Linked DNA regions of Homo sapiens: region 2 is linked to region 1. The links come from fine-mapping of genetic effects on gene expression. A gene starts in region 1. The other region holds a variant in brackets. All regions are shown on one strand. Distances are from middle to middle. Region 1 holds the start of ZNF140 (zinc finger protein 140). Region 2 has its middle 58 kb from the start of MUC8.

Region 1 (15,344 bases):
TTATAGATTTCTTTGTTTCTCCTCCACTCCCGCTTTTTTTTTTTGACTAGCCAAAAAAAGAAAGAAATGCAAATTATTTGGTTCCACCCCAAACCTACCAATTTAGAATTTCCAGGGTGGGGCCTAGGAATATGCATTTGAAGCCTCTTGACTATGATACTCAATTGCCTACTGGATTTATATATTCGTATCCCACAGAGACCCAAACTCAACAAGTCTCAATATAATCTTCCCTCCCCTACAAACTTGCTGATCCTTTTTTTTTTAACTAAGGAAACAATCATACCACCAAAAAGACTAATGTCAACCACGACTTCTCAGTCTTCTTCATGTCTGTCATCTAGCCAATCGCCAGGTCCTTTTGAGTCTACTTCTTCACTTTATTTCCAATCTGTCTACCTCCCTTAGCTCCCTGGATGCCTACATAGTTCAGGTAATGATTAGATCTACACTAGGTTGCAGCAACAACTCTTAAATGGTAGCCCTGTTTACTTAAAATAATTCAGAGAAAAAAAGGGGCAGGGGTAAGACAAATACAATAAAATGTTAATCATTAAATCTGTAACTAAGGCTGTATAGATTTGAGCAAAGAGAAAAATGAAAGAGAATTGAGAACCTAGAAACATACAAACACAAAAATTGACATTTAACTAATTTCAAAACAGTGAGGAAAATGGTTGATCTATCAATAAATGGTACTATGATAACTGGATCTCCATACAGAAGATAGCAAAGTTGACTACTAACTCACATGACAAAATAAAGTGAACGATGGATCGAAATGTGAATGGCAAAATAAGTAGGCTTTTTTAAAAGAAAATATAGGAAGATGTCTTCATCATAATCTCTTAGGAGGGAAAGATTTCTTAAACAGGCTAAAAAAATACTAAACATAAAAGAAAAGATTGATACATCTGACTACACTAAAATTAAGAATTTCTGTTCATCAAAAGAAGCTATGAAGGTTAAAAAAAAGCCACATGTGAAAGATTTTGAAGTACATACAATTAGCAAAGGATTTCTATCTAAAATATATAACTTCTACAAATCAATAAAAGAATCCAATAGATACAAGAGAAAAATCTTCAAGATTCACTTCGCAGATGGGGATACCTAGATGTTCAATAAACATACGAAAAGGTGCTCAACTTTATTAATGGCCTGACAAATGCAAGTTTAAACCACAAGCTACCACTGCACACCCTTCTGATAGATGAAAATTACGATGCCCAACAGGCATTCACTTATTGGGTTTGCGGGAGTATAAGTCAGTCAAGGGTCTTTGGAAAACATTTTGGCATTATCTAATAACATAAAGAGGTGCATTATCCTCCAACTTGGCAATTCCAGTCCTAGATATAAACCACAGAGAAACTTGTGCCAATATGTATCAGGATACATGCACAGTAACAGCATTGCTTGCAGTATCTCTAAATGTGCAAAAAACTTAAGAAGCCCTCAATAGTAGAACGAATAAATTGTGGTATACTTATCGTACAATGAAAAAAACTATTAGAGCAATTACGTTAAAAATTCTTTTAACTTTTAAAAAAATAGGGTCTTGCTGTATTGCCCAGGCTGGAGTGCAGTGGCACAATCATAGTTCACTGCAGCCTGAAACTCCTAGGCTCAAGTGGTTCTCTTACCTCAACCTCTCAAGTAGCTAGGACTATGGGCACATGCCACCATGCCTAGCTAGCTTTTAAAATTTTTTTGTGGAGACAGGGTCTCTCTATGTTGCCCAGGCTTGTCTTCAACTCCTGGCCTCAAGTGATTCTCCCAACTCAGCCTCCCAAAGTATTGGAATTATAGGCATGAGCCACCATGCACAGCCAAAAACATTTTAAAAATAATTTTGAGAAGCAAATCAATAAATACATTATAAATCTTTCTATATAAAGTTAACAAACACATGAACCTCAACTATAGTGAACACAAATGCAAAGAGCTGATGGAACAATAAAGAAAACCAAGGAAGCTACTTTACCATAAAAGCAAAGAGATGATTAGCTTTATTGGAGGGTTAGGATGAGCACACAGAAGGCTCTCAAGGAACCTAGCAGTATTGTGTTTATTGACCTTGGTCACGTGACTGTTTGCCTTATAATAATTTATTAAGCTGTACATGTATGTTCATGCATTACTTCTGTCTGTGTGTGATATTTCACAATGAAAAAAATTTTCAAAATAAGATCCTGGAAGGAATACATAAAAACTTCAAGAACTGTGTTAAAGTAGTAGAATTAGGCCAGGCACAGTGGCTCACACCTGTAATCCCAGCACTTTGGGAGGCCTAGGCGGGCAGATCACTAGGTTAGGAGTTTGAGACCAGCCTGGCCAACATGGTGAAACCCCATCTCTACTAAAAATACAAAACTTAGCCAGGCATGGTGGCAGGTGCCTGTAGTCCCAGTTACTCAGGGGGCTGAAGCAGCAGAATCACTTGAACCCAGACAGCGGAGGTTGCAGTAAGCTGAGATCGCGCCATCGCACTCCAGCCTAGGGGGCAAGAGCGAGACTTCGTCTCAAAAAAAAAAAAAAAGTAGTAGAATTAGAGGCAACTTCCATGTTTTCCTTTTTCCTCACTTCCTTTGTACATGCTTTTATCAGTTTTGTTATTTTTTAATTCAAAAAGGACATTTTTCCTCATTTGCTCCCACTAAACAAAGTTTCCCTGCACCTGTTCCATCTCACTGCTTCAGCCCACATTAGTACCTCCTTTGCAAATCCTTCTGGACATTCTCCTAAGGGACTCCGCAGCATTTCATATGAACCACTACTCTTCCTTAAAGCTACAGCTCAGTTTTCATGACATCTGTTTCATCAGTCCTAAGCTGCTGCCTCCTAAAAAGTACGCATTCCTCCTTTTCTCTCTAAAAATCAGTGTACCTCCATTAAACATGTGCTATAGAAGCAACTATAGAATTTACAGAACTTACAGAATTCATCACCTTTTCTCCAAAACTGACCCTTTTTCTGTCTTTTGTTTCTCTAGTACTATCTGCATCCAAATTACCCAAGCCTAAAACGACAACTGGAAATTCCTTTTTTCACTGCTGTACTGCTAATTTGAGGATATCTAATGCAAGCTATTTAGACACATCACTAGGCCATGAATTCCTTGATAGTTATTACACTTTTGCACACTCTCTAGTCTCTGTAGCACTTAATAGAAAGTCTTGAGAAAGATTTGACAAGATTAAAATTTCTGTAAATATTAAGAGTGTATGTGAAGGAATAAATAAATATCAATTAATCAAAGAGTAATGAATTAATCTTTTCAAGGTGATTAAATAGAACAGCAAAATATGTACTTTTAATTTTTTTTTTCTTTCTCAGGTTGAATTCAGGCAATAGAAATGTATGTCCATTTGAAGAAAGAAAGGAAAGAAAAAACAAAAAGAAATGAAATTCAGAGACCAGACAGAACTAACAATGGGAACAAAAAAGACACCTGTGAGAAAGAAAAGAAAGTATAAGGTGAGAACTGGTCGACTATGTCAGCTGTTAGGTAATATAGAAAAAACAGAATTGGGTATGAAGTAGTGTTTTATGGAGTTGTAAGTGAAACTTCAGTCTTTATACCTCTGGTATCTTTTTTTTTTTTTTGAGATGGAGTCTTGCTCTGTCTCCCAGGCTGCAGTGCAGTGGCGCAATCTCGACTCACTGCAAGCTCTGCCTCCCGGGTTCACGCCATGCTCCTGCCTCAGCCTCCCAAGTAGCTGGGACTACAGGCACCCGCCACCAAGCCCGGCAAATTTTTTTGTATTTTTAGCAGAGATGGGGTGTCACCGTGTTAGCCAGGATGGTCTCGATCTCCTGACGTCGTGATCCACCCACCTCGGCCTCCCAAAGTGCTGGGATTACCGGCATGAGCCACCGTGCCTAGCGTATCTCTAGTATCTTTAAGGGAAAATTTTCCAATCAACATATTAAAAAGTATTCCTTTTTCATTGACTAATTGAGTGGTTTTAAAAAATTTCCCCATCAGCTTCCAACTCACTCACCTGAAAACAGATCTCTTTTCACTTCCCTTTTCCCCAGCCAGGGTTCTTTCCCTTGCTCCAATAAGGAAACCACATCTGGCTTAGAAATGGAAAGACCTGCTTGCAGAAAATGAAATAAATTCAAGATCAGTCATTGAATCCTAAGAGGGGCCACAAAGGAAATGTCAGATGTAAGTTTTTAAAATGTCTAAAAATAAGGTGCAGTTACGTCCCCATCTTAAAACTAATTTTAAGAAACCCCATACCTCTCTTGGGAATATTCAGCCAGATAATTATAACAGCCACCCTAACGGTCAAATTTTGCCTTGAGGGAGATGAAGAAGAATACTTACCCAGTGAGACCAGATGGCCATAGTTCTCCAACATTACACATCTGTACAAATCTCTTTGAGCAGGCTGAAGCCATTTCCACTCCTCCTGGGAGAAGTCTATGGCCACATCTCTGAATGTCACTGACCCCTGAAATGACGGACAGATATTTGCATGACCAGCACGCATGCCCCCAAACTCCCTCATCAAGGAATAAAATGAGTCTCACTGTGGAGGTTAGGCAATGTGTCTAAGTAGTAACAGTGAGAGTTTTCAGAATTCTGAGTAATTATATAATGAAGAGCCTAGCTCTTGTGTTTTGTTGTATAACTGGAGAAAAGGAGAAAAACATAAATTATCTGTCCTGAGATAATTTACAATTTTATTCAAAATAAAGGATTATACACATGAACAATATGGATTTTTGGCATTGGTTGTAAAAATTCTTAAGATTTTACAGTATTCCTTTATGTTAATAAACAATGTATATTTTCCTTAATACCAGCCTATTTTAATATAATTCAGCCAGAATTTCTTCAGGGTAATAATTCGCTACAGCAGATAACAGCACCACCCTTCAAATGGGGCATACAGTCTCAAGTTTGTCACAGTTATCCCTAATCCTAAAGAAATACCTGTGAAACTTAGTGGTAATTTTAGCAATGTCACAGAACAAGGAGGATAAGCAATAAAGAATCTTGATTCCGCAAGAAGAGAATGTAATACCTCCCAGGACAGAACCTAAAGCACTTTCCCTCAGAGTTAGGGGGAATAATATATAAGCCCTTGCTTTGCAGCCTGGTTTTGCACCACTTGAGTGATCCACATTGATCTATAAGGCATGAATGGGAATTTAAAATGTCTCAAACTAGTAGCAGTCCCAGATGGATGGCAGTTATAATTTACAGTTTTGAAGTTTAATAAAAAAGTGATTAAAGACTGTTGACTAATAAAGCAGCTGTTTCCTACACAGCAAGATCTGCAGCAGAGGTGGAAATTGGATTCCCCAGCAAAACTCAGAGAACCTCTGAATTTGGAGAGAAGTATGACAAAAAGTAGGATAAAGAAGTGGAACTGAAATGAGGGACTCATTTTGAATAGTTGACCCTGTTATCCCCACTGCTGTGAAGCACAATTACCAGCCAAGCCCTTAGGCCAAATCAAAATAAAAATGTGTTCCTTATGTCATGTCTGAAAAATGAGCTCTGAGGATTCGGAGATTTTGTTTTGGTCACTTCTGCATCCTCAAGACTTAGAATGAGTTGCACATTAGAATCACTTGGAAGGACTGTTAGACTGCTGGGCCAAATTCTCAGTTTCTGATTCAGAAGGTCTGGGGTAGGACTCAAGAATATTCATTTCTAATACGTTCTCAGATGATGCTGATACTGCTGGTCCAAGGATCACACTGTGGGAACCACTGAAAGTAGAGGTTCAGTAAAAACATATTGAATAAATGAATAAAGGGGCGCTGGAGTAACGTAAAGCACTCCTCATTCTAACACTGTGGGAAAGAGGAGGCGATGTAACAGCTGGCACCCTACCCTCTCACCCTAAAACATGCCAGCCAGGTCAGAAACCCCGCCCACATCTGGATAGCTTCCTGTCACTCTCTTCATGTATACTTAAGTATAAGCACCTGAAAAGGAGGAACAAGGGACAGGGTCCTGGGGTTCTGCCAGGCAGGTGGTTGTAGGAGAAAGAAAGCCACGTCCCAAGTCCTGAAAAACACGGCTGCACTTCACAAAGAAAAGCGGAAACAGGCCAAGTGGGTTGGCTCACTTGAGGCCAAGAGTTTGAGGTTACAGGATGCTATGATCGCTCCACTGCCTGGGCGACAGGAGGAGACCCTGTCTCTCTCTTAAAAAAAAAATAAAAATTTATATATATATATATATATATATTTATCAATCATTAGCTTACCTGAGACATAGCTCACAGAAGGGAAGGAGGAGATCAGAAAAGTGTAAAATGGCAGACCTGGCAGAGAGAGAAAGGAGCCCTGAGCGAACAGGCCAGCTAGGCCGCGCCCAAGTCACTAGATTCCCGCACTGGGGATTCCCGTGGCCCCCGCTCCGCGCCTCCCACGTAGAGAGCAGGGCGCCCTGAGAGATCGCGCTTGGACCACTGGCGCCGGCTTTCTCTTCCTGCCACGGCGCGCCTCCCCAGAACCCCCTCACCTAACAGTGGCCACAGAAGGATGCGTTTCCGTGGTGCTTTCCGCCAGGTGGGCGTAGCGTTCCAGGGCTCCGGACCGAGTCACCGCCCGGGGCCATCCGGCGCAGACCGGGAGGGCTCCTTTCGTTGCCTACAGCCAACACAGGCCAGACGCTCGGCGCCGCCCCCCAGGGCCCCTCCGCGGGCGTCGCAGGAATTGCGTCTTCAGAAGCCTCGCCGACGTCACCCCAACCAGGCCGCCGGCCTCAAGAAACTACAATTCCCAGAAACCAATGCGGCCCTGCGCGCAAGGGCTTTTCGTTCCTACTGGAACTCCCAGAGCGCCTCGCTGCCGTGCCCAGAACGCCAGGAGACAAAGAACGAGGGCCTGCGACAACTACAATTCCCAGAGCCATCGCGGCCCGGTGCGCCAGAGCATAGGGGCTATCCTCCCACGCCCAGAGCCGAGAAACAAAGAACCCGGGTCCTAGGCAACTACATTTCCCAGAAATAACCGCGGCCCCCCGCGGAAGAGTACACAGACCTTTGTGTTCCTATAACTGCCAGAGTGTCTCGCGGCCAAGCGCACAACTAGCGGAGAAACGAAGAACGTGGAACTCAGGCCACCACACTTCCCAGAAACAACCGCGACCCCGCGCGAGAGAGCATATGGCTTTCCCCGCCCCACTGCAACTCCCAGGGTGCTTTGAGGCCAAGCGCACATCATCGAAAGACAAAGAACACGAGCTTCAGGCAACTACACTTCCCAGAACCTCTAGCGACCGTGCGCAAAAGAGCGGAGGACGTTCTTCCCCTACTACGACTCCCAGAGTGCATCGTGGCCACGCCCAAAGCCGGAAGACAACGCAGAGCTCTGGCGACTACATTCCCCCAAACTCCTGCGCCGCACGCCAGAGGGTATAGGGTTTTCCTCCCCTACTACGACTCCCACAGTGCTTCGCTGGCGTGCACACACGGCCCAGAGACAAGGAACTGGAGACTCAGGTGACTACACTTCCCAGAACACACCGCGGCCCAGCAAGAGCCCAAGACCGCCTCTATTAAACAACTAGGATTCTTAACAACGACTGTGGAGTCAGTACTTCAGTCTAAGACCTTTTGCTACTGGAAAGGGGTCCGGATCTCAGACTCTAAGAGAGGGTTCTTGGATCTTGCACAAGAAAGAATTTGAGGCGAATCCATAAGGTGAAAGCAAGTTTATTAGGAAAGTAAAGGAATAAAGAATGGCTAATCCATAGGCAGGGCAGCCCCGAGGGCTGCTGGTTGCGCATTTTTGTGGTTATTTCTTGATGATATGCTAAACAAGGGGTGGATTATTCATGCATCCTCTTTTTAGACCATATAGGGTAACTTCCTGACGTTGCCATAGCCACTGGTGGGCAGTGAGGACAATCAGGTCGTTCTCATCGCTATCTCGGTTTTAGTCGGCTTCTTTACTGCAACCTGTTTTATCAGCAAGGTCTTTATGACCTGTATCTTGTGCCAGCCTCATGTCTCATCCTGTGACTACGAATGCCTTAACCTCCAGGGAATGCTGCCCAGCAGGTCTCAGCCTTATTTTAACCAGCCCCTACTCAAGATAGAGTTGCCCTGGTTCAACCGCCTCTGACAGTGGAAGACGTAGCAATGAGGACAGCCAGAAGTCACTCTCATTGCCATCTTGGTTTTGGTGGGTTTTAGCCGGCTTCTTTACTGTAAACTTTTATCAGCAAGGTCTTTATGACCTGTGTCTCATGCTGACCTGCTGTCTCATACTGTGAGTTAGAATGCCTAACGGTCTTGGAACGCAGCCCAGTATGCCTCAGCCTTATTTTACCCAGTTCTTATTTAAGATGGAGTTGCCGGGTGCTGTGGCTCATGCCTGTAATCCCAGCACTTTGGGAGGCTAAGGCGGGCAGATCACCTGAGGTCAGGAGTTTGCAATCAGCCTGGCCAACAGGCCAGAGTGTAACCTCGTCTCTACTAAAAATACAAAAATTACCTGGGCATGGTGGTGGGTGCCTGTATTCCCAGCTACTTGGGAAGCTGAGGCAGGAGAATCACTTGAACCTGGGAGGTGGAGCTTGCAGTGAGCCAAGTTGGCGCTACTGCACTCCAGCCTGGGCGACAGAGTGAGGCTCCATCTCAAAAAATAAAAATAAAAAAAAAATACAGGCCGGGCGTGGTGGCTCACGCATGTAATCCCAGCACTTTGGGAGACTGTGGCCAGCGAATCACAAGGTCAGAAGTTTGAGACCAGCCTGACAAACATGGTGAAACCCCATCTCTACTAAAAATACAAAAACTAGCTGGGCGTGGTGGTGCACGCCTATAATCCCAGCTACTCCGGAGGCTGAGACAGGAGAATTGCTTGAACCTGGGAGGCGAAGGTTGTAGTGAGCTGAGATCGCGCTATTGCACTCCAGCCTGGGCGAAAGAGCGAGACTGTGTCAAAAAAAAAAAAAGAGCAAAACAACAACAACAAATAAAATAAAAAACAAGATGGAGTTGCTCTGATTCAAGCACCCCTGATGCTTTGGCTTCGTATAACTGTAATAACCAGAATCCTTGCAACGCTCCCAGGTCACCTTGAAACAGTGGTCTCAGAGGATGTGACTCCGAGTCCCTCGTGGCCTTATGGAGCGGCCCAGTCTCTACTTGGTACCGGCACAGCCATGGCTTCTCCCTCTGGGATTCCCCCAGCCTCGAGCAGTCTCTGAGCAGTCTCATGTTACCTGAGAAGGAACGCTGGAGCGGCCCTGGTTTTTCATGTGCTCCAGCTCGAGCCCTCCCCCAGAAGCCTTCTGGAAAGAGGCGCTGGATTGCACCTACAGGGGCTGGACGCCCAGTGACCTGGGGGCGCCTCTACTCCCAGCATTGTGTGGGGCACTGTCCTGGGCACGTAGGAGAGGTTTTGGGGAAGCAAGCCAGTCACATCCCTGTGCTTGAAGAGCACCAACTGTATGCTGAAATACGAGGTTAGGGAAGAGTCAACCCACTGAATCAAAGGAGTATTGTTCCAGATCGAGAGAACAGTTTATGAAAAAGAGAGACAAAAAAGAAAAAGCCCATTATACAAAATGGAAGAGGGCAAAAAAAGAGGAAATTCACTGGCCTGGTGAAAAGACATGAGACTGAAAAAAAAGTCCTTGTGAAGGAGCTTGGATGTCGCTCAGTAAGCTAGGAAGACACATTAAAATTCGAAGGAGGATGTGCGTAATCATATTTGCATTCCACAGCCTGTGTTCATGGTGAACTGAAGGGAAGAAGGCCACTAGGGGCAATAGTTAAATGTTCTGGAAACTAATCTGAACTGTTGCAGAGAATGGATTGAGGGGAATGAGTTAAGAAACAATTTAAGGCCAGGCGTGGTGGCTCACGCTTGTAATCCCAGCACTTTGGGAGGCTGAGGTGGGCGGATCACGAGGTCAGGAGTTCGAGACCAGCTTGGCCAACACAGTGAAACCCAATCTCTACTAAAAATACAAAAATCAGCTGGGCGTGGTGGCGCGCGCCTGTAATCCCAGCTACTCAGGAGGCTGAGGCAGGAGAATCGCTTGAACTCAGGAGGCGGAGGTTGCAGTGAGCCGAGATCATACCATTGCACTCCAGCCTGGGTGACAGAGCTAGACTCTGTCTCAAAAAAAAAAAAAACCATTTAAAGGGAGAATCTAAAGGACTGGGTGATGAATTGGATATCATCCAATTAGATGGAAGGGAAGGAAGAGCTAAGTTTCTTGTTTGGGTGATATGTTCACAGAATTTCCTTCTTTAAAGACTCTTATACCACAGCCTGTCCACTCTTCCGGTTTCAGCTTCCAGTTAGGCTACAGATGACTCACCCAGATCTCATAGCTATTTTGTTTCACTGAGATGATGAACCCAGGAAAAGAAACAAGTTCGGAAGAGAAGAAAATTAATTGGGGGACATGTAGAGAATGATGTGTGTGTGTTTAACTTTATTAATATTGTCCAAATTATCCTTTCTAACCTGGAATCTTGCCAAAGATTTCACTTCATTTCCCCACATCTTTTCTTCACACCGAAGTCAGCCTGATTTTTATAAAGCAATTCTGCTCATATTCTTCTGCTTAACATAACTTGATGACTTTTAATTGTTCTTAAGTAAAGGCAAAAGTCCTTACCATGGTCCACTGGCTGCAGGATCTTACTCCCATCTTTTCAAGCTTTTCTTACATGACTTTCCTCCTCTCTAACTGCACTTTGTTTCCTCAAATGTCACGTGTCTAAGGATCTTTGAGCACGTTAATTCCGTCTGAAAAAAAGGTGACTATCCCTTCACACCATAACCTCATTAGTTCATTTCAGGTCATCCTTTAGATTTCAGCCCAAGCAAGTCTTGCTCAAAGAAATGTTCTTTGATCCCATTATAATCAGTAAGGTCCCAGTGATTACACCCTAGACTTACTCTCTTTAGCATTTACTTAATTTGCAATTATGTTTGTAATTATGTACTTACATTCGTGTGATTATTATGTTAGTGATTACATCACTAGACTGTAAGCACTATGAGTCTAGACACCATTTTGTTCATCACTGTACCCATAATGACTACTATGCTACTTGGTGCTCAGTGAATATTTATTGACTGAAGGAATGACACATATTATCAAATTTTAACTTTATCATATTGTAAGGTAAAGTGATATCGTGTTTTAATTTACTTTTTATGATAATATGAAACTGATCATTGACTAGTGTCTATCTTCTTTCATAGCAAAGGCTATGAAACATTATTTTGCTATGAATCACTTTTCTATTAGGAGTCCTATGTTTTTATTATTAATTTGTAGAAGCTCTTTGCATAGTGGGATTTTATGCCTTTTGTATATATGTTGCAAGTACAGTATATTCTCACAAGTCATTACTTATATTTTCCCTTGTATATAGTGAGGCTGTGTGCTATAAGCTTTTTTAAAAAATTTTGTTTCTCTAGACAGAGTCTCATTCCATCACTCAGGCTGGAGTGCAGTGGTGCGATCTCAGTTCACTGCACCTTCCACCTTCCTAGGTCCAAGTGATTTGCATGCCTCCGATTCCCAAGTAGCTGAGACTACCGGCACACGCCACCACACCTGACTAATTTTTTTTCTTTTTTTAAGTGGAGTTTCACTCTTGTTGCCCAGGCTGGAGTGCAATGGTGCGATCTCAGCTCACTGCAACCTCCTCCTCCTGGGTTTCAGCGATTCTCCTGCCTCAGCCTCCCAAGTAGCTAAAATTACAGGCACCTGCCACCAGGCCCAGCTAATTTTTTGTATTTACAGTAGAGAAGGGGTTTCACCATGTTGGCCAGGCTGGTCTTGAACTCCTGACCTAAGCTGATCTGCCCACCTTGACCTCCCAATGTGCTGGGATTACAGGTGTGAGCCACTGCGCCCAGCCTGTGCTATAAGTTTTTACGTAGTCAAATCTAAAAGTCTTTTCCTTTCTGGCTTTTGAATTTCTCTTGTTTAAAAAGGGTATTCATATACCAATTTTTAAAATATTTCCTACACTCTTAATTTTCCTTGTATTTGGGTCTCTTTCTGGATCTTCTATTTTGTTACATGGATCTTGTTGCCTATTTCTGTGCCAATATTATATGGTCTTAATTACTGTAGCTTTCTGGTAAGGCACATCCTCTCTTACTCTTTCTTTTCTAATTTTCTAGACTATCTATCTTATGTGTTTTCCCCTGTAGATAAATTTTATTTTTTATTATTTATTTACTGAGACGGAGTCTCACTCTGTCACCAGGCTGGAGTGCAGTGGCGCGATCTTGGCTCACTGCAATCTCTGCCTCCTGGGTTCAAGCGATTCTCCTGCCTCAGCCTCCTGAGTAGCTGGGACTACAAGCGCCCACCACCACACCCAGCTAATGTTTGTATTTTTAGTAGAGACAGGGTTTCACCATGTTGGCCAGGATGGTCTCAAACTCCTGAAATTTTATTTATTTATTTATTTATTTCGAGACCAGGCCTCACTCCATCACCTAGGCTGGAGTACAGTGGTGCAATCATGGCTCACTGCAAACTCTACCTCCTGGGCTCAAGCAATCCTCCAGCCTCGGCTTCCCAACGTGCTGGGATTACTGGCATGAGCTATCACACCTGGCTGTAGATAAATTTTAAAATAATCTTGCCAAACTCCTTTAGCAAAATTTATTTGAAATTCCATTGTGATTATATTCAGTGTTAAGAGAGAAACAATATATTCCCTATGTGGTAACAACAATTTGAATGACGGTAGCTTTGTCATCTGAAACCACGGAGGCCAGAGGGAGGTGGCACATTTTCCAAGTGCTTGAAAGATTTGTCAACCTCTAATTCTATATCTACCAAAAATACCTTTCAGGAATTAAGAAGAAATAAAAGCATTTCAGATGAAGCAAAATAATAATTGGTTGACTGCCCTTCAAGACTGACTCACAGAGCATCTCTGACTGAAAAGGTAATAGGCTGGAACTTCGAAAAGACAGAAAAAACTGTGGAGTGGGTTAAAATTGGGGTAAATGTAACAGACTACCTTTCTCGTGAGTTTTTAAAATCATGCTCAATGGTTGAAGCAAAAATTTTAACATCATCTGATGTGAGACTTAAATGTATATAGAGGAAAGACTTAAGACAATTATAGTAAAGAGTGAAAGGGCCAGGTGCAGTGGCTCACACCTGCAATCCCAGCACTTTGGGAGGCTGAGGTGGGAGGCTTGCTTGGGGCCAGGAGTTTGAGACCAGCCTGGGCAACATAGTGAGACCCTGTCTCTAACAGCAAGAAGAAGAGTAAAGGGACCTAAATGGAAGAGAGGTTTTTACACTTTAGTCAAAGTTGTAACATATCAATACCTGTAGATTGTGACATTAGGCATATATATCATACTACCTATTGAAACCACAAAGCTATATTCAAAAATACTTTCAATAGCTAAAAACTGGAATTCTAAAATAAGTTCAAGTAGCCCACAGGAAAGCAAGAAAATGGAAAAACAGTAATAAGCAGAAGGAAGAAACAGAAAATAAAAAATAGAAGTCCCACATAATGCTTATGTATAAAAAATAAAAGTCCCACATAACGCTTATGTATAAAAAATAAAAGTCCCACATAATGCTTATGTATAAAAATAGGAAACACACAGACACACAAGTATATATCACTGTGAGTATACTGTAAATTCTTGTTTTTTCTTCTTTCTGTTTCTTAAATATACTAAGATAATTCTCACGAGTTACTCCTCTCTGCTAGAACACTAGTATTTCCACTCAAATTCACCTTCTTAAAAAGACCTATTAAACTACCAATTATATGTTCACCATTTCGGTAATGGCTATGCTAGAAGCCCAATCTCCACCAGAATGCAATATACCCAGGTAACAAACATGCACCAAGTACTCCCTGAATCTAAAATAAAATTAAATTTAAAATTTAAAAATTAAGGCCGGGCATGGTGGCTCACGCCTGTAATCCTGGCACTTTGGGAGGCTGAGATGGGTGGATCACTTGAACTCAGGAGTTGTAGAGCAGTCTGGCCAATGTGATGAAACCCCGTCTCTACTAAAAATACAAAAATTAGCCGGGTGTGGTGGTGCACACCTGTAGTCCCAGCTACTCGGGAGGCCGAGGTGGGAGAACTGCTTGAACCTGGGAGGCGGAGGTTGCTGTGAGCTAAGATCGTGCCATTGCACTCCAGCCTGGGTGACAGAGCAAGACTCCGTCTCAAAAAAAAAATTAAAAATTAAATAAGCTTGAATAAGATTTTTAAAAAACTACCAGTTGCAGTTTTCCTCACATTTAAATCAATCTGTATCATATTACCCTGTTTTGTTTTATCATAGCATTTATTCAAATATTTAAAAGTATGTATATATAATTAAAAAGTGTATGTATATATACATACACTTTTATATACATATATGTACATATTTACATATATATATATATGTCTCTTGTTAAAATATAAACTCTGTGACAGAAGAAATCTTTTCTTACTGACTTTCACCCTATTGCGTGGAACATTATAGGTAGTACATGGTAGGTAAAGGTTCATAAAATATGTTTTGAATTAGTATATTCAATTTTTTTTGTAAACGTCTGTGCACAGTTTCATTGTATACATTTTTCATAAATTAGCCAATAAAGACTTACAGGAGACAGTTTTACTTTCTATAACCTTAAGTTTTATGCAAGTGAAATCTATGTTTTATAGTTATTCTCCTTAGTGTATGTTTTAACATTTTTTTCACCCACATTATAGATATTAATATAACTATATATAATGTTTTTACTTTTTTTGAGACAGGGTCTCACTCTGTCACCTAGGTTGGAGTGCAGTGGTGCAATCATGGCTAACTGCTGCCTCAACCTCCCAGACTCAAGTGATCCTCCTACCTCAGCCTCCCAAGTAGCTGGAACTACAGGCCTATGCCACCTTGCCCAGCTAATTTTTATTTTTTGTAGGGACAGGGTCTCCCTATGTTGCCCAGGCTGATATCAATTCCTGGGCTCAAGCAATCCTCCCACCTTGGCCTCCTAAAGTGCTGGGACTACAGGTGTGAGCTACTGTACTGTTTCTTATGTGCCAATTGTAGAATTATCCTTTCTGGCATTTGTCTTTTTTAGTGTGATATAGGGATGCAACATTATTATTTTGTACAAACTGCTTGGTTGTAGGTCCAAACAACATGTATTGGATAAAACGTGCTTTGAGCTGGACATAGTGGCTCATTCCTGTAATCCCAGCAGTTTGAGAGGCCAAGGCAGGAGAATCACTTGAGGCCAGGAGTTCAAGACCAACCTGGGCAACATAGCGAGATCCCCATCTCTACAAAAAATAATTAGCCAGACATGGTAGTGTGCATCTGTAGTTCTAACTACTTG
Region 2 (15,344 bases), 660 kb after region 1:
CTTCCCCTTTCGTGAACTCAGTCCTGCAGAAAAAGACGCCTTGCTGATACAAAGTAACAGCCTTTTATCTCTTTACAACAAAATCTAACTAGGCGTGAAGGAGACGCAGCTGGGACAATTAGGCGAGGGTGGAGGTCACTGGCCTGGGGATCCCGCAGCCCAGGCCCTTGTGGGTCTGCAGCTGGGTCCTGGATGCGTAGCTCCCGCCCTGGGAAGGGAAACTGCTGGGCCTTTTCCGCGTGCCCCGCGGGCAGGAGGTGCTTTCTGGAGGGCAGCCCATGTTCTCTCTGTGGATCCAGTTGCCTCGCCCAGGGGAGGTCTCTGCTGTGACAGTAACTTAGAGGTGCAGCCGCCCTTCTGAGTCACGCACACATCAGGGTGAACCCCACAGCACCCGCTTGCTGGCCCCACTTCACAGGCGGGGAACCAGGCACAGAGAGGTTGAGTGATCTGCCCGAGGCCACACAGCACAGTGGCAGAGCTGGGGCCCGGTAATTCACTCTTCCTGTCGCCCTTTGTGAAAGTCCCGCCCTGTCCTGGGCACCGCACAATCCTTCCGGTCCCACGGGAGGCCCAGCCCCTGCTCCGCCTGCAGCCGCCACACCCCCTGCCCCTCTCCCTCCGCGGACCCCGTCCGCCCCGCCCTCCCGGGGCCGCTGCTCCCTGCCCTGGTCCGCCTTCTTCAGGGGAGGGGCGTGGCCACCCAGGCCCTGCCCAGTGTAACACCCAGCGCTGCTGATTGGCTCCCGTCTCGGCTCTGGGTCGCCTGGACACCGTGATTGGCTCAGTGATGAGCACGTGATCCAAGCTAGCCCAATGAAAGCCAGGCCTGGGATTTTGGCGGGGTTCGCAGGAGCAGGAGGGGAGAGTCTGCACCTGCAGGTGGTGCAGAGGCCCCTGGGGTCCCAGAGGGAGTGGAGCAGCCTGAGGCCGACAGGGCTGGGTCGGCAGGAGGGAGAGAGAGATGGAGATGGAGATAGACAGAGAGAGACAGGGACAGAGAAACAGAAGAGAGAGACAGAGAGACAGAGGGAGAGAGACACAGAGAGACAGAAGCAGATGGAGAGAGAGAGAGAGAGAGGCGGAGACGAAGATAGAGATAGAGAAACAGAGAGACGGGGACAGAGAAACAGGAGAGAGACAGAGATAGAGAGACAGGGAGAGACACACACAGAGAGACAGAAACAGATGGAGAGAGGCAGAGAGAGAGAGGCAGAGACAGAGATAGAGATTAAGAGACAGAGAGATACACAGAAAGACAGGGACAGAGAAACAAAGACAGAGTTAGACAGAGGGAGAGAGACACAGAGAGACAGAAGCAGATGGAGAGAGGCAAAGAGAGGCTGAGACAGAGATAGAGATAAAGAGAGAAAGACACAGGGACAGAGAAACAGAGAAGAGAGAGAGAGACGGAGAGAGAGAGAAGCAGATGGAGAGAGGCAAAGAGAGAGAGACAGAGACAGAGATAGAGATAAAGAGACAGGGACAGAGAAACAGAAGAGAAAGAGAGGCAGAAACAGATGGAAAGGGGCAGAGAGAGAGAGAGGCGGAGATGACTGTGCTCTGATGATGTTATCTGAGCCCTCTGTGAAATCTGAGGCGCCCAGATGCCTGTGTTTAAAAGTCCTTCATCCCCTTGTTTTCTGTGAGTTGGTTTCCATAACTTGCATCAGAAAGACCCTGACACACATTGGTGTGGGGTGGAACAGTTGCCAGTGGCAGCTCCTAGAGTGTGGACTGGCAGGTCAGGCCCCGGCAAGGATACCCGTCTGCAGGGGGAGCTGCCGCCCCTGGTCATGGAGTGGGAGGGTCTGGACCCTGGGCCAGCCAGGCTGAGCCGTCCAGCATCCTGCTGCTGCTCGCATTTCCCCAGGTGTTTCCAGGACCTCCTGCTCTTCCAGAACTGACTGTTGCCCATTGAGAGGTGGAGTCTGTTCCCCTCCCTGGAGCCTGACTGTGTGACTGTCTCAGTGGAGATGCCATGGGGCTTCCCAGGCCATGATCCGAAGGAGGAATGATGTCAGCCAGCCTCTGAGGTCTGTGCTTGTTCCTGAGCCTGTCGCAGTGGCCGGGTGTCCTAATTCCACGCCGACCCGTCCAGTCCTTCCCCTGGAATCGGTGTCTTCCCTCGACTTCCAGGCACCCCCCATCCCCTCCTTCTCACTGTCCTCCTGCTATGGGGCTGGTTGCTGTTGGTTCTCTCTCCTCCCTCCGCCTCCTGAGGGGGTGCCTTGGGACGCAGTGCCCACAGCCTCTCCTCTGCCTGATGCACACTCACCCCTGGCTTCTCATCCGGTCACAGGACCTGGTACCCACAGCCTCTCCTCTGTCTCTCCTCTGTGGATACCCCATCCACACTCATCCCCTGACATCTCATCCAGTCTCATGGCCTCCATGCCTATCCTCTCACTGCCCCGTCCACACTCACCCCCGGCATCTCACCCGGCCTCGTGGCTTCCATGCCTGTTCCTGCCTATTCTCTCACTGGCCTGGATGCCTCCTGTGGTTTGAGCCTCTCACACCCACCTGCCCGCTCCATGCCCTTCTGCGATGTCCAGTGGGCATCTCACATCCACAGGAGTTTCCTGTCTGGGGGGTCTCCTGGGGATTTTTGGGGATTCCCAGCCCCATTTCTAGCGTCCTCTCATCTGTTTCCTCTGATGTGGGTTAATGCATCTGCGGGACCTGTCTTAATGAATCGATGACGTTATCCCAAATTACCCATCTCAGCTGGGTGCAGGGGCTCACGCCTGTAATCCCAGCACTTTGGGAGGCCGAGGCGGGTGGATCACCTGAGGTCAGGAGTTCAAGACCAGCCTGGCCGACATGGTGAAACCCCGTCTCTACTAAAATTACAAAAAATTAGCTGGGCGTGGTGCCGGGTGCCTGTAATCCCAGAAACTCGGGAGGCTGAGGCAGGAGAATCGCTTGAACCCAGGAGGTGGAGGTTGCAGTGAGCCAAGATCGTGCCATTGCACTCCAGCTTGGGCGACAAGAGCGAAACTCTGTCTCTCTCTATATATATAAACTAAATTAGCAATCTCCCTTTGCATGGCAATGTTGACTCTGCTAATGGGATTTAAATAGTAAGTTGGACATTTTCTCCTTCAATATTTTGCACCATTGATTTGCTTCAAAGTCTTTTCTCACAGTCATCACAAAGGCAAACACCAACATTGGCCAGGCCCCGAAATCATAAAGCCCAATTGACGAGATGTTGGTCCACTCTGAACTCACCACTGGCCAGGACACAGCCAAGCATCGGAAGGAAGTAGCTATGTGCCTGACCGGTCACCTGACGCAGCCTCTTCTGCAGCCTGAACTTGACCCAGCTGTGTGAGGCAGAGTGTGGCAACATTTGAGATGCTGGATCAACTCTTACCTGACGCACTGGAACATTTTGATTATGGGGCAAGACCAGCCTGGGCAACACAGTGAGATCCCATCTCCAAACAACAACAACAACAAAACAATTGATTCCTTTTTTAAAATAACATTTTAGACCCAGCACGGTGGCTCATGCCTGTAATCCCAGCACTTTGGGAGGCTGAGGTGGGTGGATCACTTGAGGTCAAGAGTTTGAGACCAACCTGGCCAACGTGGCGAAACCCCGTCTCTACTAAAAATACAAATTAGCCGGGCGTGGTGGTGGCCACCTGTAATCCCAGCTACTCGGGAGGCTGAGGCAGGAGGATTGCTTCAACCTGGGAGACAGAGGTTGCAGTGAGCTGAGATCACGCCACTGCACTCCAGCCTGGGCAACAGAGTGAGACTCCGTCTCAAAAAAAAAAAAATTTGTTGAGTTGAATGTGGCTTCCAATTATGAGGGTGTTTCTAGGTTTTGCAACCAAACAAATAATCCCTGATAGAGACCATTGAATAGTCTTTCAAGAGCATGTATATGGGTTATACATTTATTCCCAGCCTTTATGCTGTTATTCATACTTACCATGCATCACGTTTCCTCTGTGGCTAATTTTCTTTACCTTAAAATGCAGCTTTTTTAAAAATTTCACTTCTTTCCACACATCTGCAGCTGAAATAGCTCTAACAATGCCCCGTTGATACCACTTCTCCGCTTCTTGGTCATGGGAACATGCATCTCTTAACTCCGGCTTTGCTTTTTGTGCTTTGGTGAATTAACCGGCCTGAATGCGCTCAGCCAGCCAGCGGTCCAAAACCCGATGGCTGTTCCGCCTTCACAAAAGGATTGTCAGGCAACACGTGTTACCGTGACTGACCACGGCAAGATTCAGGAACAGGTGAAAGCTTTCTGTTTTCCTTCCCTTTCATCCATAAAGGAGGGTCTTTGCCAATTTAGCTCCTGGAACATTTCCGATTAAAAAAATTAGGAAGCTGGATCAGGAAGAATAGAGCCTTCACGAAACGGAGTGTGTGGGCGGCAGAGGGCTGGGAGGGCACAGCCAGACGCCAAGTCATCTACAGAAAACATCTGGACGGGGAGGCAGAGAGAAGAAAGCTGCCCTGTGGGTTCAGGCTGGAGAATGGATTTCAGGGTTTGAGGTGCGAGAGGGCTCAGAGCATCTCCCTGGGGCAAGAAAATTGAGTGGAGGAAGGAAGGAAAAGGTTAGAGGGCAGCTCGGAGTTACCCCCCTTTCAGTTTGCAGGTAAAATGAGGGGCCCATTGAAAGTTATCATGTGGCAGCTGAATTATGCCTTTTTTTTTTTTTTTTTTTTTTAGACAGAGTCTCCATCTGTCGCCCAGGCTGGAGTGCAGTGGTGCGATCTTGGCTCACTGCAACCTCTGCCTTCTGGGTTCAAGCAATTCTCCTGCCTCAGCCTCCTGAGTAGCTGGGATTACAGGCTCCCGCCACCACGCCTGGCTAATTTTTTGTATTTTTAGAAGAGATGAGGTTCCACCATGCTGGCCAGGCTGGTCTCAACCTTGTGATCCACCTGCCTCCGCCTCCCAAAGTGCTGGCATTACAGGCGTGAGCCACCGCGTCCGGCCCTGAATTATGCCTTTTTGAAGGGATCTCAGCAGGCACTGAATGCTGCAGGGTCCAGAGTTTATTTGGGTAACTTTACATCAACAAGACAATATATTTGGAGAAATTCACAACCACCGTCACACTTACTCAGCTCTCAGGCTGCAGAGGGTATGGAGGAGGAGCCTCTGACCTCTGAGCCCCTCGGTGTTTCTTCCCTGTTTCTCTTTTGTGGACTGTTGGAGAGACACCCCCTCCCCACGGAACTCCCTTCCCCAGGGCCCACTTCATGGAACAGAGCTTCTCAACACTCAACATGCAGCAAACCACTGCGGGTATTGTTAGAATAAAGATTCTCCACCAAGAGGTCTAGAGGAGCCCTGGATTCTGCCTGCCTTTCCTTCCTTCCTTCCTTCCTTCCTTCCTTCCTTCCTTTCCTTCCTTTTTTCCTTTCCTTCCTTCCTTCTTTCTTTTCTTTCTTTCTTTCTCTCTTTCTTCTTCCTTCCTTCCATCTTTCTTTCTTTCCCTTTCTTTCTCTCTTTCTCTCTCCTTCTTTCTTTCCTTCCTTCTTTCTTCTCTTTCTTTCTCTCTTTCTCTCTCCTTCCTTCCTTCCTTCTTCTCTTTCTTTCTTTCTTTTTCAGACAGGGTCTTGCTGTGTTGCCCAGGCTGGAGTGCACTGGTGCAATCACAGCTGACAGCAGCCTTGACCTGATCGCTTCAACGATCCTCCCACCTCAGCCTCCCAAGTAGCTGGGACTACAGGCACGTGCCACCACACCTGGCTAGTCATTTATTTTTTGTAGAGATAGGGTTTGACTATGTTGCCCAGGCTGGTCTTGAACTCTTGGGCTCAAGCAATCCTCCCACCTCAGCCTCCCAAAGGGCTGGGATTACAGGTGTGGGCCACCGCACCTGTAATCTTTTTTGATTTTAGATATTTGACTTGTACTTATTCAGTTAAGCATCCCTCATCTGAAAATCCACTCTGAAATGCAAACTCTTCCAATGGGCATTTCATGCATTTCATCCGAGCTCATGCCAGTACGCAAAAAGTTTCAGATTCCGGAGCGTTCTGATTTTGGATTTTTGCAGGAGGGATGCTCTGCCTGTAAGTGCCAGGCAGCCTTCCAGCTGCTGGGGAAGTAGCTGGAAACCAGAGGACAAGTCCCACTGCCTCAGATCCCTGTGGGGACAGAGTAGATGGGAAGCAAAGGTGTGCACGAGACCACGCCAGACACACGGATCGCACGGAGCGAGATCTGGCCGCATGGAGAGCCAGGAGGAGCAGGCGGGGAAGGGCCTGGCGGTGGGAGAGCTCCAAGTGTCTGCAGCAGAGCAGGTGGTGCAGCCACGGCCGGGGCAGCACAGTGAGAGGCCAGAGGGGAAGCTGGGCCGGTCCCGCAGGCTCTGCAGGCCCTGGCTCGGGCTTTCACCTGCAAGCAGGAAGGTGCTGTGGGTCTAAGCACATGAGGTGTTGGTTTCAGCTCCAGCTGGGCAGGAGGCTGGGCCGTGGGAGGAGGGGACAGGCAGGGGACAGGCAGGAGGCTGGGGCGGTGCTGAAATCTGTACCCATTGGCTTTGCCATGCTTCCCACAGAGCTGGGTCCGGCCGTTCCTGACTTTGTGGACCGTGGAGGGGTGACACTGTGGGCTTAGTCCCGCGGCCGGCTCTTGAAAGGCCCAAGGCCTCTGCCTGGTTCTTGGAGCCACTGCACTGCAGGGGTGGCCACTGCCTGAGGATTCTGACCCCGGGACCACTGTGTGGGGGACCTTGGGGAGACCCCCACCAAGCCAGGGAGTGCCCAGCCAGCAACTGGGCCAGTGGTTTCCCACGTCCGGCCCAGTCACCCTCATAGGACACAGCCCTGGCCAGCGGCACAACACGAGAGACCCCAGTGAGGACCCCCCAGCCAGGCCCCCTGAGTCCCTGACCCCAGCACTGTGAACAACGTAGTGGAGGTGTCATTTCAAGCTATTGGCTGTGCTGGGACAGAGGACCCTGATGCAGAGACCGGGACGGTGGCTGGACCACCGTGGGGCTGGGTGGGTGGGAGGCGTTTGGCTTCAGCGTGTGGTCTTGGCAGAGGTAGGTGGGATCTGTCCGTTTCTACCTCCTGCCCACCAGGCCTGGTTCCAGGTTGGTGGCATGGCCACGGCGGGACTCGGGGCCCCGCTGAGCTACTGGTCAGCCTTGGCTGAGAACCCCCTGCCCTGCCTCTTTGGGGCTGCCGCCAGCAAGGGGGTGGGGGGCTCCATGCGGACCCCTGGGTGTTGGGGGCTGGCAGGGGTGGGCCAAGGCAGTAGCACTAGGCAGCAAGGGAGCGTCAGGGCCCCGGGCTATAATCCCTCAGGGGCCATTCTGCGCCCTCTGGCCTTGACCCCCGGGGTGTGGGGCCCTTCCCACACTGGGTGCTGCCGGCCATCAGTCTTTTTAGAGGCCTCTCCTGCTGTAGGAGCCCACTGTGGGGTGGGGAGGGAGGACCCTCTGCTGCCCCCCTCCCTCTAGGGATGAGGTCTAAACTCCAGAGACCTGACCGGGCCCCCTCCCTTCCTCTCTCGGCCTGAGCTCTCCTTCCTCAGGGTCTGCTGGATTTGAGTGGGGGTCTCAGGCTGGGGGCACTGGCTGCGTCTGTGGCCTGTTGTCCAGCAGAAGGCTCTGTCCGGGATCGGGAAGTGGCAACGCGTTCCTCAAACCACAGACAGTCGTGTTTCCAGAGACGGCTGCCGCCGTGTCCCCACGTGCTCCTCCAAACCTCAGAACCCGGGACCTGCACCCCTCCCCACATCTGGAGATGGCCCCTGCCCTGGCTCGAAGCTGGGTGGGCTGTGGCTCACCTGTAACCAAGAATCCTTCTCACTCGCGAGGATGGGGTGGGCTGTTACTAAGTTCCAGGTGGCTCGTTAGGCAGCCGGGAGCCGGGACACTCGGATCCCCCGGGCATGGGGGCCTCTCTGGGAGGCCAGGACAGAGTTGCTGACCAGGTTTCCAGGGCTCTGGGGCCAGGCTGCTAGGGCGGTCCTGCCTGGGAAGGCCACCCACCTGCCCCGAGCTGGCCTTAATCATTAGGCTGGCCTGACGTCCTTTTAGAGAACAGCTCAAGCCGTGCTGGGAGCCAGTCAGCGGCGGTCATGAGAGCAGCCATTTGCACTTGGCAAACTTGGAGTGGCGCAATGAATACGTCCTCTCCTTGAAAAGGCCAGGGCACCTCACTGAGCTCTGGCCTTGGGTCAAATATAACTTAAGCTGCAGAAAAGGGAAAACGATGGGAAGTGAGTCTATTTTCTTCTCTGGACACTCCTGCCTGGTCCCCAGAGACGCCACCGTGACCAGGTTCTCACATGTGACAGCCCTGCAGCCCCGTCCTCCAGTGGGGTGGGAGCCGTGCCCTCCCCAGCCTGGCTGTGGCCGTGACTTTGGGAGAGGGTCCCGGGTGTGTGTTTGCTACAGTGAGGGC[A/G]AGGGGCCCCTGACTTCCTGGGGGAGGGGACATCCTTCACCAGAGGCCACCACAGCCGACCTTCCGCACTGTCCTTGCAGGGGCCTGGTGGGGAGCCTGGACAAATGGCCGTGTCACCCTCTGCAGCCTGAGGATGGGGCGGCAGCTCCGCCGGCCCCAGGACACTTGCCAGGACCCCAGGGCACGGGAGACGGAGCTGGTGGTGTGGCTCATCCGAGAGGGAGCTGCTGCCTCAGGGCTATGGGACGGGACACCCTTGGCAGAGGGTGGAGAGGTGCAGGGCCAGGAGAGCACCAGGAGTCTGTACCCGTAGAGCTGGGGAAGCACTTTGGGCAGGGACAGATCCTGAGGCGGTTCTCAGGCAGAGGCCTAGCTGCCGGGGTGGGGAGGGGGGTACACCTGGGACCGGGCTTCTCCAGCTGGGGTCCCTCAACAGCAGCATCCACGTCACCTGGGAGCACGTCAGGAATGCAGACTCCCTGGCCCCACCAGCCTTGAGCCAGCCTCGGGGAGCCCCATGCCAGGTGTAGAGACCCCGACCATGCCAGGTGTGTGTGGGGGCATCCTCGGGCCCCTGGGGCTGAGTGACTCTGCCAGGGGCCGTGGGCGGAGCCGCAGCGCTGCCTGAGAGCTCGGGGCCCACCCTGCTCCTGGATTCTGCCCCAGTTCCGGATCCCAGGGCTCCTGGCGACGGCTCTGGCACAGAGCGGAGCAAGAGAGACCCCTAGTGGCCAGAGGGTCAGTCCCGTCCTCCAGCCACCAGGACGGGCACCACGCCCTTCCCAGAACTGTCCCTGTGCCAGGGGTGCAGGTGCCGAGGCCCAGGCCCTTCTCTCTGCTGGAGGAGAAATCACAGAGACTCAACCTCAGGGAAACTGGGTCCTGGCCCCAGACCCACGGGGGCCCCGGGTTGTGCATGGCGGCCGTGAAACGAGGGGAGAGCCTCACCCACGCCTGGTCGGGGGTGCTCCACAGCTCCCTGGGGTGGGGCAGGGCTCCCCAGACCCCGGGCCTCCTCCCGGCTCCCACAGCCTCTGCCCTGCCCTGCGTGCGACCCGGGCCTAGGTGGGGTCTGCCTCCTGCCTGGGTCTCCAGGGGCTCTGTGACCTGCTGTTCCCTGCACGCCGGCACCTTCAAGCCCCAGAACACACCTTCTCCTGGAAGCTGTCACCTGCTCTGTACGCCGGGACAGGCCTGCAGGGCGGGACCCCAGCTACTGGCCTTCCCCCGAAGGTGGCTGGATTTCAACACTCGCTCCCACTTCCGAAGCCAGAGCGTGGAGCCCAGAAACAGCGGCTTGCAGAGGGATGGACCACCGCAGCCTGGACGGAGGCCCCAGACCCTCCACTCCACTGTGGTCGCTGGAGGAGCCCCCGGTTGAGGGATAGTGTAGAAACCTCAGCCAGTGTCCTTCGAAATCACCGAGCACGGGGCGGCAGCTGGGACAGGGTGTGGCGGGTCCCGGGCTGCAGGGAGGGCCCTTGGGGGAAGCGCCTTGGTGGGGGGAGACCCTGAGGTCTTCCCGGGAGCTGAGGTGGGAACACTGGAGGGGCCTCCGGGGCGCCTGCCGCAGGAGGACGTCCAGGTGCGTGGACGCAGAGACTCCCGTGGGCTGGGGTCGCGGTTCTGAGCTGCAGGACCCCAGGTACCCACTAGAGGGTAGCAGCGCTCTGTGGCCCTGGACCACCGACCACAGCCCACTCCGGAGAGCAGGGCCAGGACGGGGCAGGAGCTGGGTTACCCTCCGGAGTCAGCAAGGGTGGGCAGGCAGCCCCTCACCAGCCTCTTAGGCTCCTGATACCTGACAGGACTGGCAAGAAGGCCGCCAGGACGACCTGCCGTACCCTCAGCGCCCGGCACAGACAGGGCTGTGGTCTCTGGGCCAGAAACCCCAGGTCCTGGTGCTGGAGCCCAGCTTGTCTTCTGGGAACCTCCTGCTGCTCTGGAACCTCAACGTCCTAAAACAGCCCAGGCAGCTCTGCAGGACAGCCTACAGTGGTTAACATGGCACCCCCAGACCCCCACTGACACCCCAGACCCCCACTGACACCTCAGACCCCCACTGACACCCCCAGGCCCCCACTGACACCCCAGACCCCACTGACACCCCAGGCCCCACTGACAACCCCAGGCCCCCACTGACACCCCAGGCCCCACTGACACCCCAGACCCCACTGATATCCCAGGCCCCACTGACATCCCAGGCCCCACTGACACCCCAGACCCCACTGATATCCCAGGCCCCACTGACATCCCAGGCCCCACTGACATCCCAGGCCCCCACTGACATCCCAGGCCCCACTGACATCCCAGGCCCCCACTGACACCCCAGGCCCCACTGACACCCCAGGCCCCACTGACATCCCAGGCCCCACTGACATCCCAGGCCCCCACTGACACCCCCAGACCCCCACTGACACCTCAGATCCCACTGACATCCCAGGCCCCACTGACACCCCAGGCCCCACTGACACCCCAGGCCCCCACTGACACCCCAGACCCCACTGACATCCCAGGCCCCACTGACACCCCAGGCCCCACTGACACCCCAGACCCCACTGACATCCCAGGCCCCCACTGACATCCCAGACCCCACTGACATCCCAGACCCCACTGACACCCCAGGCCCCACTGACACCCCAGGCCCCACTGACATCCCAGGCCCCCACTGACATCCCAGGCCCCACTGACATCCCAGGCCCCCACTGACACCCCAGGCCCCACTGACACCCCAGGCCCCACTGACATCCCAGGCCCCACTGACATCCCAGGCCCCCACTGACACCCCCAGACCCCCACTGACACCTCAGATCCCACTGACATCCTAGGCCCCACTGACACCCCAGGCCCCACTGACACCCCAGGCCCCCACTGACACCCCAGACCCCACTGACATCCCAGGCCCCACTGACACCCCAGGCCCCACTGACACCCCAGACCCCACTGACATCCCAGGCCCCCACTGACATCCCAGACCCCACTGACATCCCAGACCCCACTGACACCCCAGATCCCACTGACACCCCAGGCCCCACTGACACCCCAGACCCCACTGACACCCCAGACCCCACTGACATCCCAGACCCCACTGACACCCCAGACCCCACTGACACCCCAGATCCCACTGACACCCCAGACCCCACTGACACCCCAGATCCCACTGACACCTCAGACCCCACTGACACCCCAGATCCCACTGACACCCCAGACCCCACTGACACCCCAGACCCCACTGACATCCCAGGCCCCCACTGACATCCCAGACCCCACTGACACCCCAGGCCCCACTGACACCCCAGGCCCCACTGACATCCCAGGCCCCACTGACACCCCAGATCCCACTGACACCCCAGGCCCCACTGACACCCCAGACCCCACTGACACCCCAGACCCCACTGACACCCCAGATCCCACTGACACCTCAGACCCCACTGACACCCCAGATCCCACTGACACCTCAGACCCCACTGACACCCCAGATCCCACTGACACCCCAGACCCCACTGACATCCCAGACCCCACTGACACCCCAGACCCCACTGACACCCCAGGCCCCACTGACATCCCAGGCCCCCACTGACACCCCAGACCCCAGTCGGACACCCATGCACCCCTTGACTGACACCCTCAGACCCCCAGCCAGACACCCCCAGACCCTGTGGCCCACATCCCAGACCCCCTGGCCCCCAGACTCCCCAGCAGGAAACCTCAGACCCCCTGGCCGACACCGCAGACCCCCTTGCCCACACCCCTAGCCTTCTTGGCTGTCACCCCCAGACCCTGTGACCCCCGGCTGGACTCCCCCAGATCCCATAGCCAATACCCCAGACCCTCTGGTCAGTGGAACTGACTGGCCAAGCCCTGTCCGAGGAGGCAGTTCCTCCCAAGCTGCTCCTTTCCACAGTCAGGGCCGGCCAGGGCAGAGCCTGGCGTCCACATCCCTCCTCCACTCACCACACAGGCCGTGGGGCAGCACTTCAGTTTTGTTTGTGATTAAATGAAGCTGCCTTTTGAAAAATGCTGGCTCTTCACCGTCTAGGCAGCAAATTATCTTAAAGTGGATGTTCTTTGTTCTGGGAAGTCACTTGATTTGCTGAGTGTGCGTGTGCCTGTGTGTGCGCACCTGCATGTGTGTGTGTGAGCCTGTGTGTGTGTGAGCCTGTGTGTGTGTGTGGGTGTGTGGGCCTGTGTGTGTGCGCATGTGTGTGTGCATGTGTGTGTGTGGGCCTGTGTGTGTGTGAGTGCCTGTGTGTGTGTCTGTGTGTGCCTATGTGTGTGGGGGCCTGTGTGTGTGTGTGGGCCTGTGTGTGCACGTGTGTGTGTGTGGGGGGGGGCTGTGTGTGTGTGCGTGTGTGTGTGCATGTGTGTGTGTGTGGGCCTGTGTGTGTGTGCGCGTGTGTGTGTGTGGGCCTGTGTGTGTGCATGTGTGTGTGTGGGTGCCCGTGTGTGTGTGGGGGGCTGTGTGTGCACGTGTGCACGGGTGCGTGTGGGCCTGTGTTGTGTGTGTGTGTGGGTGCCCGTGTATGTGTGGGGGGGAGGTGTGTGTGTGCACATGTGCACGGGTGCATGTGGGCCTGTGTTGTGTGTGTGTGGGGTTCTAGACCCTGGTTACGTGCTAGAACCACCCGACAGCTTTGAGAAGTACAAAGCCCTGCACCGCCACCCCAGAGGTGCTCCCTGAACTGGTCACAGGGGCCTGGATCAGCCCTTCTAGACCCCCCAGGGGGTCCACCCTGCAGCCCTGGGAGGACGACAGGCCCAGGGAGGAGTGGCCTGTACTGCCCGGGGGTGGGAGGAAGCAGGATGCCTTGGGGGTGACCCAAGGCCCCCCTGCGGACCGAGGGCCAGGCCAGGTCCCTCTAAGGCTGGGGTGTGGTGTGGCCGCCTCCTCCCAGGCTCCTCGGTGGACAAGAGTTCGGTTCCCATCCCTGCCTCCGCGGCTCTAGAGCTCGATCCCACGCTCTAGGTGGTGAGAAATCCCAACTCAGTCATTGCTGGGGTTTCCTTTCTCTACGGCTTGAATCACATCCCCCAAAAAGGTCCTTTGCCATCCTCACCCCCGTTCCTCCACACGTGGCTTCACGGGGACAGAGCTGCTGCCGAAGTAACTGGCTCCGGAGTGGAGCGTAGACCAGTGTGACCCTGTCCTGACATCAGGATTTGGACAGATGTGCTCACAGGGAGGATGCTGGGGGAAGGCGAAGGTGTTGACCAGCCTGGGAGCGGCAGACACGGGCCCTGGACGATTCTCCCTCAGGGCCTCAAAGCACCCGGCCCTGCAGAGGCCCCACCCTCGGCTCCCAGCTCCAGGTCTGCAGGATTAGTCCGTGTTAAGGCGGCTTCTGAGGGGCTGTGATGGCGGCCCCGGGACGCACGTGGCTGGGCTCCTGTCGCCCTGAGCTGGGGAGGGGATAGGGTGAGACTCTGGGGCGTCCATCAAGGAGGGTGAGGGGGGCTTGGCAGTGTCTCCCGCCTCCGTGCTGTCCTGGGCTCGGTGTGCGGGCCCCAAAGCCTCATTTTCTGCACTACACACGCATCCTCTCTGGGTGCCTCCCCGAGCCCCCATGTACCACCCGCCACGTGCACGCAGCTGAGCATCCCCTCTGGTTGACGGTTCCTTGCCCATCCTCTCCTCTCACCCTGGTGTGGATGGTGAGCTCCGGGGGTTCAGGGGTCACCACGGAGGTGGGGTGTGGGCGTCCCCTTGGTGGCCGGGCTTAGTTTGGCGCCTGCCTCGGCGCCCGCGTCTCCCACACACGTGGCCGGACCTTGTTCGTGACACCACACAGATGTCCGTGGCCTTCCCGGCTCCGCTCCCTGTTTTGGCCAATCCGTGTGAGGCACCAGAGCCTCAGGTGATTCCAGCAGAGGCAGGTGTGTGGCGGTTACGGAGGCCACCCGGCAGCCAGATGTTCTGCCGTCACCCACAGGACGGTGGCAGCTCTGGGTTCCATCCCTGAGCCGGGCAGGTGGAGCAATGGAGCTGCGCCGTCCTCCTCTCTCGGGGCAGCGCTGCTGGGACTTGGCCACACTCCTGCCAGGGACCCCGGGCTCCCTCCATCTGACTGACCTTTGCCCTCCAGGGCCTGGAAAGCCAGGGTGGAGATGGCACCGCGGCTCTCTGCGTTCTGCTGCTGAGGGGGTTTGGGGGCACAGGTCCCCACTGACTCGGACGCCCAAATCCCAGGGAGAAATCGATCCTGTGTCCAGGACCCAGCAGGAGGAGCGGATCAGGGCTGGCCCCACAGCTCCCATCCCCCGGGCCTGCCCCTACCTCTCCCGCCCAGAAGCCCCCCACAGGCTGCAGCAAAGGCAGGGCCTGCTCCCGGCCCCTCCCAAATGTCCCCCAGCCTGCTGGCCTTTGGTATCAGGAAGGATTTGTGGGGTGGCTGCAGTGACGCCTGTGAGGGAGGTTCAGGCTTAGAGACGTGAGGGGCTGGAGGGGGCAGGCAGGGCTCGGGACCAGAGGCAGGGACATGGGATGCAGGGCTGGGCAGGACAGGTTCTGAGCGAGAGGCAGGGAGGGCGAGGGCGAGTGCAGCCTGGAAGCCCTCCCTGCGTCAGGGGTGCGGCCCGTCTGGGGACGGTGTGGACGGCAGAGAAACCGGCGGTGCTTGGGCCTGCGCTGAGCTCACTGAGGGGCCTCTGTGGGGCTCCTGCCTGGCCCGGCCACCCCCAGGGCTGGTGGCTCAGCAGAGAACGGGGCCGGCTGACTGGACGGGGCTCCATGTGGGGTGGGGTTGAGTGTGTCATAAAACAACAGGTCCCGTGACACGACTTGTCATCAGCAGCAGGTGAGCTCTGAGCAGTGTTCTGAACTCACTTGGCCCCCAGGACACTTGTGAGGGGCGTGCTATCATGGCCCACGTCACAGGTGAGGAAACTGAGGCACACAGGCTCCAAGCCCCTCAGCCGTTACTCGCTAGACTGTGGGCAGCCCC

The links.
Region 2: its variant is fine-mapped to the expression of ZNF140 in hypothalamus (GTEx, PIP 0.98).

What each region holds. Positions count from the first base shown.
Region 1 is chr12:133,072,225-133,087,568 of GRCh38, reverse strand. ZNF140 (zinc finger protein 140) reads right to left here and starts at 6,646. Exons shown (of 5, transcript NM_003440.4): 1 at 6,497-6,646; 2 at 6,240-6,296; 3 at 4,340-4,466; 4 at 4,008-4,103. The coding sequence starts at 6,248. RefSeq lists enhancers at 6,658-6,857, 6,928-7,617.
Region 2 is chr12:132,408,874-132,424,217 of GRCh38, reverse strand. No RefSeq gene overlaps it. Among named protein-coding and RNA genes, the nearest start is that of MUC8, 58 kb to the left of the region's middle. RefSeq lists a silencer at 9,137-9,275. The variant A/G (reference allele first, on the strand shown) is at 8,404.